Regions from separate parts of the Homo sapiens genome. Here region 1 is linked to region 2. Evidence: fine-mapped expression QTL. A gene starts in region 2. The other region holds a variant in brackets. All regions are shown on one strand. Distances are between the middles of the regions.

What was found.
Region 1: its variant is fine-mapped to the expression of ABCA8 in testis (GTEx, PIP 0.98).

The regions. Positions count from the first base shown.
Region 1 is chr17:68,928,194-68,933,587 of GRCh38, reverse strand. It overlaps ABCA8 (ATP binding cassette subfamily A member 8), which reads left to right. Exons shown (of 40, transcript NM_001288985.2): 6 at 317-420; 7 at 1,074-1,300; 8 at 3,886-4,027; 9 at 4,354-4,539. Among named protein-coding and RNA genes, the nearest start is that of ABCA8, 25 kb to the left of the region's middle. The variant G/T (reference allele first, on the strand shown) is at 3,108.
Region 2 is chr17:68,952,612-68,958,005 of GRCh38, reverse strand. It overlaps ABCA8 (ATP binding cassette subfamily A member 8), which reads left to right and starts at 2,614. Exons shown (of 40, transcript NM_001288985.2): 1 at 2,614-2,787.

The DNA.
Region 1 (5,394 bases), 24 kb after region 2:
AATACAAATCAGAAAAGAGAAGAGACCAACAAAATTCTTCATCAGCAGAAAAGCACAGGACACGGTATGAGAAAGCTTAGAGTGTTATAATTTAATGTAAAACATTTCCTAAGAGTGCTCCACCTCATGATTCTGCCTGATTCATTTTGAGAATCATTGTTATAATTTATGTTTTCATAAGCTTTGAGTCAAAATAAGAACATTTGGAATTTGGGGTCATTGTAAAGTCCACTGTTTGCTATAATCAGTATTAAAATCATATTTCAATAATATAGATAGTGATGTAATGATAGTTATGATTTGTTTTTTCACAAAGCTCATTGTTATGAAACAAATGAAGATGTTTACTGTGAAGTTTCAGTATTTTGGAAGGAAGGTTTTGTGGCTCTTCAAGCTGCCATTAATGCTGCTATTATAGAAGTGAGTACAAAATGTTCAAAGCAAACTAATGTTTAATGCAAGTTAATGATATTAGAGGCATCAAAAGTTTCATGGAAGAAAATATAAGTGGATAGCCTTGTTATTTCCTTTGCTCACTCTGAAGTTTACTGAAGTTACTATATACCACGGAATGTAGATACAAACAGAAGAAAAAGTATCTCATTCATGGACTCAACTTTGTTGGGAAGCCAGGAATATAAGAAAATTATTAGAACAGAAGTAGACTATTACAGAACTATAAATCAGGTCCTCATAAGTAAATGAGTAAAAACCTCTCAGCCTTAGAATGCCATGGAAGAATGCCTAATTGAAATAACATTCCAGCTTGAAGCTTGAGATGAGGGGTGGCTTACTGAATATATAAATTGAGAAAAGCCATGCCAAGCAAATCATAAAGTAATGTTAGGCAGGGAGGTAATGAAACACACAGTAAATTCTGAGAGTGGTGAGTAACTCAAAATGCCTGGACTCCGAGGTCCCAGCAGGTCAATGACAGGACATAGAAGTGGAAATTTAGGTTAGTATCAAATCCCAATAGGCCAATCATACATCCACAAGAAAATAGATGGTTAAAAGAAAACTGCATGCTGTTCATTAACGTACAAATTTTGCTTATTAATGCCTTTCTTCAGATCACAACAAATCACTCAGTGATGGAGGAGCTGATGTCAGTTACTGGAAAAAATATGAAGATGCATTCCTTCATTGGTCAATCAGGAGTTATAACTGATTTGTACCTTTTTTCCTGCATTATTTCATTTTCCTCATTCATTTACTATGCATCTGTTAATGTCACAAGAGAGAGGAAAAGGATGAAGGCCTTGATGACAATGATGGGTCTTCGGGATTCAGCGTTCTGGTGAGTCAAACGCAGCACAAATAAATAAACGGAGGAACTCAGGAAAACTGGGAATCTTCAATGCATCTTTTTTTTTTTGAAATGGAGTCTCGCTCTGTCGCCCAGGCTGGAGTGCAGTGGCGTGATCTCAGCTCACTGCAAGCTCCGCCTCACAGGTTCACGCCATTCTCCTGCCTCGGCCTCCCAAGTAGCTGGGACTGCAGGTGCCGACCACCATGCCTGGATAATTTTTTGTATTTTCTGTAGAGACGGGGTTTCACCGTGTTAGCCAGGATGGTCTCGATCTCCTGACCTCGTGATCCACCCACCTCGGCCTCCCAAAGTGCTGGGATTACAGGCGCGAGCCACCACGCCCGGCCTCTTCAATGCGTCTTTATTAAAACCTGTTTCTCCACAACCAAGGGGTACAAATGAGAGATACCTACACAGAATAATTTCAGATCATGAACAAATTTCCACTTAGTTAATTTCAGTGGGGAGAAATGCTCTGCAGTGATGGACAAAAAAAAAAAAAAAAAAAAAAAAAGGAAATGTATTTTGCTTCTGGAAATTTTACAGGACTAAGTAGAGAGGCTGGTCATTTAATATATTTAACAATCTCTGACCCAATTTTATCTAAATCTATTTCAGATTCACTGTACTGTGAAGGAACTGCTATAGGAAATAAGATAAAAGGGGACAGAATGTGCTAACATTTAAGAAAATACAACTTCCATTACGAATAATATTGACTTTTTTAGAAAGGAGGAAGATAATCTTTTAAAGAAACATAAAAAGTAAATAAAAAAACTTTGAGAAAACAAATAAGGAGCCAAATGCAGAATTTTACAGAAAAAATAATGTCACAACTATCACACATCAATGTCCATTTAAAAAAATGTGTTGCCATGAATAAGAAAATGCCACTTTTAAACATTCTTTAGTAACAAGGAAAGAAATATAAAAATCCTTTATCCCCATGAATGGTATAAACTGTCATTGGTGTAATGTTTGCCAGGCTGAGGCTGCGTCTTACTGTGCTTCTCTGAGTTAAGGAAGAAGATTGGGGTTAGGTTATTGGTTGATTGTGAAGAAGGTGTAATGAGGAATGGCCATGGCAAGAGAGGCGTAAACAAGATAGACAATGGTGTCTGTGCCAGACAGAGGTGAGATGTGAGCTAGGAGGGGATTGAAAGGGAAAAAGAAGCCGAGGACCAGGAACTCCTTTGAGACTGAGGAACATGCTTGGTGTGCCTGAGGGAATGAGCTGGCAAAACAGGATGGTGAATAGGGGCTGGGTAGTGTGGGTTTAAAATGTCAGAGGTTGGGTGATTCCAAGAATGGACAAGGTTCTGTGTGAGAACTTATGAATAATTGACTGAAAGAGCATGGAGGTGATGTTTACAGGGAGTAGGACATTAAATAACAGAGAGGCTAGGGAGGCAGATGGGCTGTGCATAGGGCAACAAATTAGGAGTCTGGAAGAGTTCCTTCCAGTATTAACATCTTATACATCAATATTGACCTCTTGTTTGAATTAATACTGGAGGGAAACGTAGCAGAGCAGTGAAATCTAAAGACTATAGAGCCAAAACCCCTGAACTTGAAACATAGTTACATAACACCCTTGTTCATTAGGTTCTCTATCAATAAGATGAGGAAAATAATGGTATTCTGAATAGGGCTATTGGGAGAATAAAATGCTTTAATGTTTGCTAAGTTTTCTTCAATGCATATTAATTGCTATGTGTGTGAGTTATTATTGTGTTGGCTTTGCAGCTGTTTTGTTTTTGTTTTTTAAAATTATTATTTCATTATAGTTTTCAAA[G/T]AATATTGTAAAACAAAAGAAAAGAAATTGATGAGGAAAGGAAAGTGAATTATTCTGACATAAAAGAATGGGATTCAAAAAAAATCTTTCTTAACAAAAACAATGAACGGAACTAAAGGCAAGTATGTAGACTTTTCAGTGAACACATCCAGAGAAAGATGACAACAGCTTTTGGGGAAGGAGTGACATGACCAAATTACACATAAGGAAGAATTTCTTGTCTCTGAGGAAGCTTGTGATGGTCCTGAACTTGGAGAGACTCCAGAGAGGAGAGAAGGGTCTGAGGTTCACTGAGGGGCTACCCTGTATTAAGACAGTGCCCTACATAGCCATCATCTTATTTAGTCTTCAGTGGTAGTATTATTCCTGGTGTCCAGAGAAATAAAGGAATAATAGAGGGGTTACAGAGGTTGCCCAAGGTTACAGAGCAAGAATGCAGCAAATAAAATGTTCGATCCAAAATCTATTACACTGGAAACCTAATTCCCCCCCCACCGCCCCCACCCCCCAGAACAATGTGCATGTGTGTGTGAATGTATTTCTGAAATCAATTTTAGGAAAAACAATTCCTAATTCCCAAAGAATATTCCTAATTCTAAAGAATTCTGCCCAAAACTTTTACCTTGTATTTATATATCTTAGAACACCCAATAAATAAATGTTGAAAGAGAGAATGAATGGATGAATAAGTGAATGAAGAGTTATCTTAGAATCCATTTCAGGTCTTCCTTTTCAAGTGAACATAAAATACTAAAATAACATTTTGTTTCCACATTAGGCTCTCCTGGGGTTTGCTCTATGCTGGTTTCATCTTCATTATGGCCCTTTTCTTGGCACTTGTTATAAGATCTACCCAGTTTATCATTTTGTCTGGCTTCATGGTAGTCTTCAGCCTCTTTCTCCTGTATGGATTATCTTTGGTGAGTTAGTGAATTAAATATCTTTCCATCCACCTATAGCCTAAAAATTGTTTGTTTCCGACTGATTACTCTGTATGCCTCCTTTTTTTTCTACCTACTCTGTTTGCATGTGAAAAATCTATAAACAGGTACAATTTGATTTGAGGTGTTTTGTAATGTCAATTTTTAGTGCAATTTGCAGAGCATAGTTTTGTATGTTATATACAAAATAACTATAATATACAACTGTTACATACACAAAATAACTATAATTTTGTATATCTATTTTATTATGCTAGTAATAATGTTAGAGAAACATAAACCAACTAGATCTTCTCTCATTTTAGGTAGCTTTGGCTTTCTTAATGAGCATCTTGGTAAAGAAATCTTTCCTCACCGGCCTGGTCGTGTTCCTCCTCACTGTCTTTTGGGGGTGTCTGGGGTTCACATCACTGTACAGACACCTTCCTGCATCCTTGGAGTGGATTTTAAGCTTGCTTAGTCCCTTTGCCTTCATGCTTGGAATGGCCCAGGTGAGATGCCATCTGAATGTCTATTAATGGCATTTCTGAAACATCTGTCCCTCTGGAATCCATAGGCTGTAATCATTTACAAACTCAGCATTGTAAGGCTTAAAATTCTAGCGAAGGCTGTTGTAAAGTTGCAAAGACAGAACTTTTAAAAGCTTGGAAATTATTTAGCCCAGCAAAATAAGACATTTGGAAAGTGAAAAAAAGAGGATCAACATACAATTATTTAAAGGCAATATAAAGTATTTTCTTAGGCTATTAATTAAATATGGACATGTGGCAAATCTAATTATAAATAACTATTCCAGTTCATGTTTTTACCTAGTAATTGAAGAGAATACGTGATTAAAAACCATTAAATCAAATTAAATTAAAAATTTAAAACATCTGGAAAATTCATTAGTAAATTATGTTTCTATTCATAAAATGTCTTTTCTGTTTATGTGATTCTTATTGAATTCCCCTTGCCTTCCCTCTAACTAAATGGAAATGTCAACCATTAAATATCCATTATTTAGTGTTTAACAAAAGGATTGTTAATTATAAAGAGCTCATTAACTTGAACATCATAGACAAGCCCACTTCTGGTTCTACTTAAACACAGCAGTGCCTTTTGCCCAGAAATTCTCCCTCATGCCGCCAATTTACATGGATCACCACACCTTTTGACTGTGTCCTATTTGGTAAAAGTTCATCTAAGTTCGATCTCAAATGTCATCTCTTCCCATACTTCCCTACTTCCTCCTAATGTTTCAATTTCATTTGGAACATATTTTTATCATAGCAATTACTAAATTGCATTCTAGTTGCTCATATGTCCATGCCTTCCAAGGCATAGATTTGAGAACCATAAAGGAG
Region 2 (5,394 bases):
TAATCTATCTGATTGTGCACTGTTTTTGATGCTCTTTTCTAATCAGAATAGAGAAGAATGCATCTGACTAATCGCTGGCTAAAAATCATGTATCTGCTCTAGGAATAGATACCATGTCTGACAAAGCAACTCTAATTAGGACCACTAGTTGTTTGAGCTTGAGATAGTCTAAGCATTCTCTAGAATCTTTCTGGCTTCTGCAAGGATCAGGCTGGCAAATTAAATTAAGGTGTGCTAGGCACCACTACCTTTCATCCTTATGTCACTATTTGTGGCATTGGTCTCTGCATTTCTTCTCCCCATGTGGAATACTGTTCTTGATTAAGTGTCATGGCTGGGGATAAAGTTGGGAGAATTGTCAAAGGTGCCCACTTTCCCTTCTGCATTATGATAGTTTTTACCCTACAGGCCAAGGACTCAGCATGGAAGTTATTCTAACTACTAGATATGTCAATTCTAACAGCACATTTGGTGACAGCAAAATCACCACTGGGTATGTCCATAAGTCCAGTGAGACGAGGCAGAGCTGCTTGTTAACCGGAACTCCATTTACGACCTTGGCTCTATATTCTCAATCTAGCTGTAGGGCCTTAGTGTGGGTTGCAGTTATCAATGTCCACTCTGACTTTATGCCCAACAACCCTTGACATGTCTGGGGATTTTTCTTTCTTCAGTGTATAATCACCCAAATAATGGCTTTAGGTCCCTTTGAGGGAGGACTAGGAAGTATAATCACCACAGTATATACTTGTCAAGATGTTGCAAGATCTTTTCTTCTAGGGGTCTGACTAGTTTTTTAATCAATATGTTCTGTATCTGAAAAGTAGCTTAGGACTAGGAGCTGAGCAAGAGATCATGACTTTTTATTGGGGTGATGGAGACCATGTTGAGCCTCTTACTCCTCTATTTCTTCCCCTTCTGGTTATATAGTTACTGAGCAGCACCCTTGTTGACCTCCTTCCTATTTTGTCTGTATATCATAGTAAGGTTTATATATTTCACTTAAAATGAAGAAATATTAATTCTGGGTAAAGCATGTCAAGTTAAGTATGTCTTTTGTAATCCTGAGAGTGACCACTAAAATAACTATACAAATAGATACAGTTAAGAAACATAATAGATACGTTGAAATGCAATACCAAAAAATAATTTCAAATAACCAACAAGAAAGCAGAAAATGGGAAATAGGAGAATTAAAACCAGAGAGAAAAGAAGCAAATAACAAAATGGCAGATCTGATTTTAAAAATCAATAGCTACATAAAATGAAAATAATTTAAACACACCCATTAAAAGATGTGCATTGTCAAATTGGATTTTAAAAACCAAACTCATGACTCTATTATATGCCATCTACAAGAAACTCACTTGAAATACAATTTAGAGCTGGGTATAGTGGCATGTATCTGTAGTTTCAGCTACTCAGGAGTCTGAGATGGGAAGATCACTTGAACCCAGGAGTTCAAGTCCAGCCTTGGCAACATAGCAAGACCATCATCTTAAAAAAATAATAACAAACACAGACGCACACACACACATACACACACACGCATACACATATAATATGAATGTGATGTTTGGCAGGGCCAACAGAATTGAGATCATAACTGCCACTCTGAAAGCATATAGTGTGTGTGTGTGTGTGTGTGTGTGTAGATAAAAATAAACGGATGAAAACAAAATACCACGAAAACAATAATCACAGGAAAGTAAGAATGGCTATATTATTAATATGAAACAAAGTAGACTTTAGAACACAAAAGTTACTAGAGATAAAGATTAACATTACATAATGATAAAAGGGTCAATTCACCAAGAAGACATAACAATTCCAAATGTTGCAAAATACATCAGGCAAAACATGATAGTTTTAAAGGGAGAAATTTGAAAGTCCCTAAGTTTTGTTAAAATCTTCAACATTCCTCTCTTAGTAATCAACAGAACTAGGAGACAGAAAATTAGGAAAAATATAGAAAAAACTGAACAATATCATCAACCAACTAAATGTAATAGATATTATATAATATTCCACTCAACACCAAAAAACTATACAACTTTTCAAGTGCCTATGGAATATCTGCCAAGATAGATCATATCCTGGGTCATCAAATAAGCCTTAACAAATTTGACATACAAAATATTTTTTCTGAGTATAATTGAACTTCTGATTTAAAATTAAATCAATAACCAAAAGATAAGAAAATCTTCAGACACTTGGAAATTAAGCACATTTCTGATTAATCCGTGGGTCAAATAAATTGGAAAATAGTCTGAACTGAGTGAAAATGAAGCTGGGAAGCAGAGGAATGAAAATTTTGATTATCTAGGTAAAGCTGTCAATTAAGCAGACTAGAGCTCTGGGTAGAGAGAAGAGCTTTTCTCTGATTAAGCTGTTTACTTTCTCATGGCTTAAAGACAGCACTTTAAATTTTGGTATTAGCCACAATAATCTTGGACGTAAAAGAGAAATTGCTCCCTATAATATGATATAGCCAGGCAACCCAGTATAAATGCCACTGCTCTGCAGGAACTGGCCGAATATCAATGAGAAGACAAACAGTCCAAGCATGATGACGTGAATGTGATGTTTGGCAGGGCCAACAGAATTGAGATCATAACCTCCACTCTGAAAGCAGTCTTCACAGAAACTTTTCACAGAAGTCAAATAGTTAAAGCAAATTCTAGATACATGGTAGAGACCAGGAGAAAATATGAATAACTTTCTTCTAAACAAGGAGCTCAGTGGATAAACCATACCTCTAGATTCCTTGCTTCCATTTTCCCAGAAGTAAGTTCACTGTATTTTTTCTGTTTTGTTTTGTATTTTGCTTTTGTGTGTGAGTTTGTTTCAGAGGTTTTGTCTTTTCTTATTCCTATCACAAAATTATAAATAAACCTTTATAAACTGAATGACAATCATCTATGCAGAAATTATTTTGAAAAATATTGGGCTACTTTAAAGATTTTATATCTGGTAATTAATATTAGATAAATAAAAACATTGAGTTAGAATGTTTTTTAAAAAATTATGCAAACATTATGTTGTTTTAAACATAACTGAGTGTAGAAATAAGTTTAAATTGGCTAAAAATTTTTTGTGAAGAGCTTAGAGTTTTAAGAATTGGGTTGGAAGACTGAGTTGTTTTTGAAGTTAAAGTTATCTACTTTGATTGCACAATAATGTAGGGCATTTTGGATAAGTGTTCTTCTGACTTTAAGACTGTTTACCAAGAGCACTTACAGAAATATTTTTATTGTTCCTATCGCTCACTCTTAGTCTATAAGAATTTTAGAAATGTAAGATTCTTTCTAGGATCTTTTACTCGTTGGATACAGTGAGTTGAATCAGAATGTGAAATATGTAGCTTCTCTTTACCACAATGTTATTTAAAATGTACATTGGTAAAAAGAATTTTCATACTCCTATAGTGAATACATGTTGTTCTGAATTTTACAACAGTATAAGAGGATAAAAATGAGTCATTACAATTTGAGACTATTTGCCATATGTATAATAAAGTATTCATGTTTTTGCTAGCCTTTACATAAACTGCAGAACATACAAAAATTGGAAAGAAACAAAGTTGGCAATAATACTTTACGATGGAAGATATAAGGGATTGGAGTCAGACTGGAGTTTGCATGCTACCTAAGACTGTAGCTGATTCCATAGTGAGGAGATCATCCTCTTGGCCAATGTCTATTAACTTCGCCAGTGAATTATGCATTTCTGTAGAGAAGCTGTGATATATTTGGGCTTGTGCATGAGGTGGAGTGTAGGGAAACATCACACTCTGGGGACTGTTGTGGGGTGGGGGGAGGGGGGAGGGATAGCATTGGGAGATATACCTAATGCTAGATGACGAGTTAGTGGGTGCAGCGCACCAGCGTGGCACATGTATACATATGTAACTAACCTGCACAATGTGTACATGTACCCTAAAACTTAAAGTATAATAATAAAACGAAAAAAAAAAAAGAAATTCCTCCTGTACAGAGCTTGCATTGGCGGCAGCTGCTTTAAGAACCCAGAAACTTTTGCCCTCTCTGTAGGCTAGCTCACTGTGAAAATATCCCATGGATTTTACCTAAAATTGCTTACAGAGAGCGGCATTATACTTCTATAGATAATTGCATCAGTAACCAGAGAGGAGAAGTACAGCAGCAGACTACCCTCTACCCCCGGTAGGAGTAGTAGCACATCACAGTTTCAGCAAGTTCAATCTTGAGCAAAGAACATGATGTGATTGTTTGTGGGTATGTCTGTATACGGAGTGTGATTTTAGGTAAGGAGAGCCTTGCACAGCTCTCTTAAAAGTATCCATGCTGAATTTTCTGCACCTTAACCTAGGCTGCTTTACTCTTGGAACTGTCTTTCCCTCTTCTCCTTCCATGGGCTCTCTGACCTCTTTACTTGGTCTGCTTCCACTTAGGCCTGCCCCTCAGCCTCATTGCATGGCCATGTGTAGGTTCTTCTTCTAGCAGTGTTCTCTGAGACTGCTGTGGCTAATGTGCCTTCTGTTGCAACTGACCCCTGGACACCTTACTTGAGATTTGGCTCTAGAAAGTAGCACCACCCTGTGTGTGATCCTGTCCCATAAATGAGATGATGGCTTCAGTTGGGGCTCATTCACTTCTCATCACTATGGAGGAGTTCATAGAAACTGCATGGCCAACATGGCATGCATACGGAGGGAGATCACTTGCTTCAGAAGTCAGGACTTATGAGCCAAATGATGGTCTTCAGGGTGGAGCTGCTGGCTTTGTGCTCAAAAGTCTGGACCCATTCTTCCAAGTCATGTCCTTCACATGCTTCCCAGAAAACTGATGATGGTACCTTCCAGAATCTCTTTACTTTCTATAATTCAGCTTAGGTAGCCTGTTTTCTCCCACGGCAAAGACCATTTGAAAGCACTCTAGTCCTACAGTTTTCAGGAGTGGCTTAGCAAATCCTATTTGTGTAGCAGTGGTTGATTGAAGTTCTGGAAAGATGTGGTGCTCTTATTATGCACTGAATTATCTTCTTCTGGGAAGTATTTTATGTGCCTGCTGCAATAAACTGTATGTATAAATTCCCCTACAAAATCACCCCCCATATACAGACATACCCAGAAACAATCACATCATGTTCTTTGCTCAAGATTGAACATGCTGAAACTGTGATGTGCTACTACTCCTACCAGGGGGTAGAGGGTAGTCTACTGCTGTACTTCTCCTCTCTGGTTACTGATGCAGTTATCTATAGAAGTATAATGCCACTCTCTGTAAGCAATTTTAGGTAAAATCCATGGGATATTTTCACAGTGAGCTAGCCTACAGAGAGGACAAAAGTTTCTGGGTTCTTAAAGCAGCTGCCGCCAATGCAAGCCCTGTACAGGAGGAATTTCTACACTCC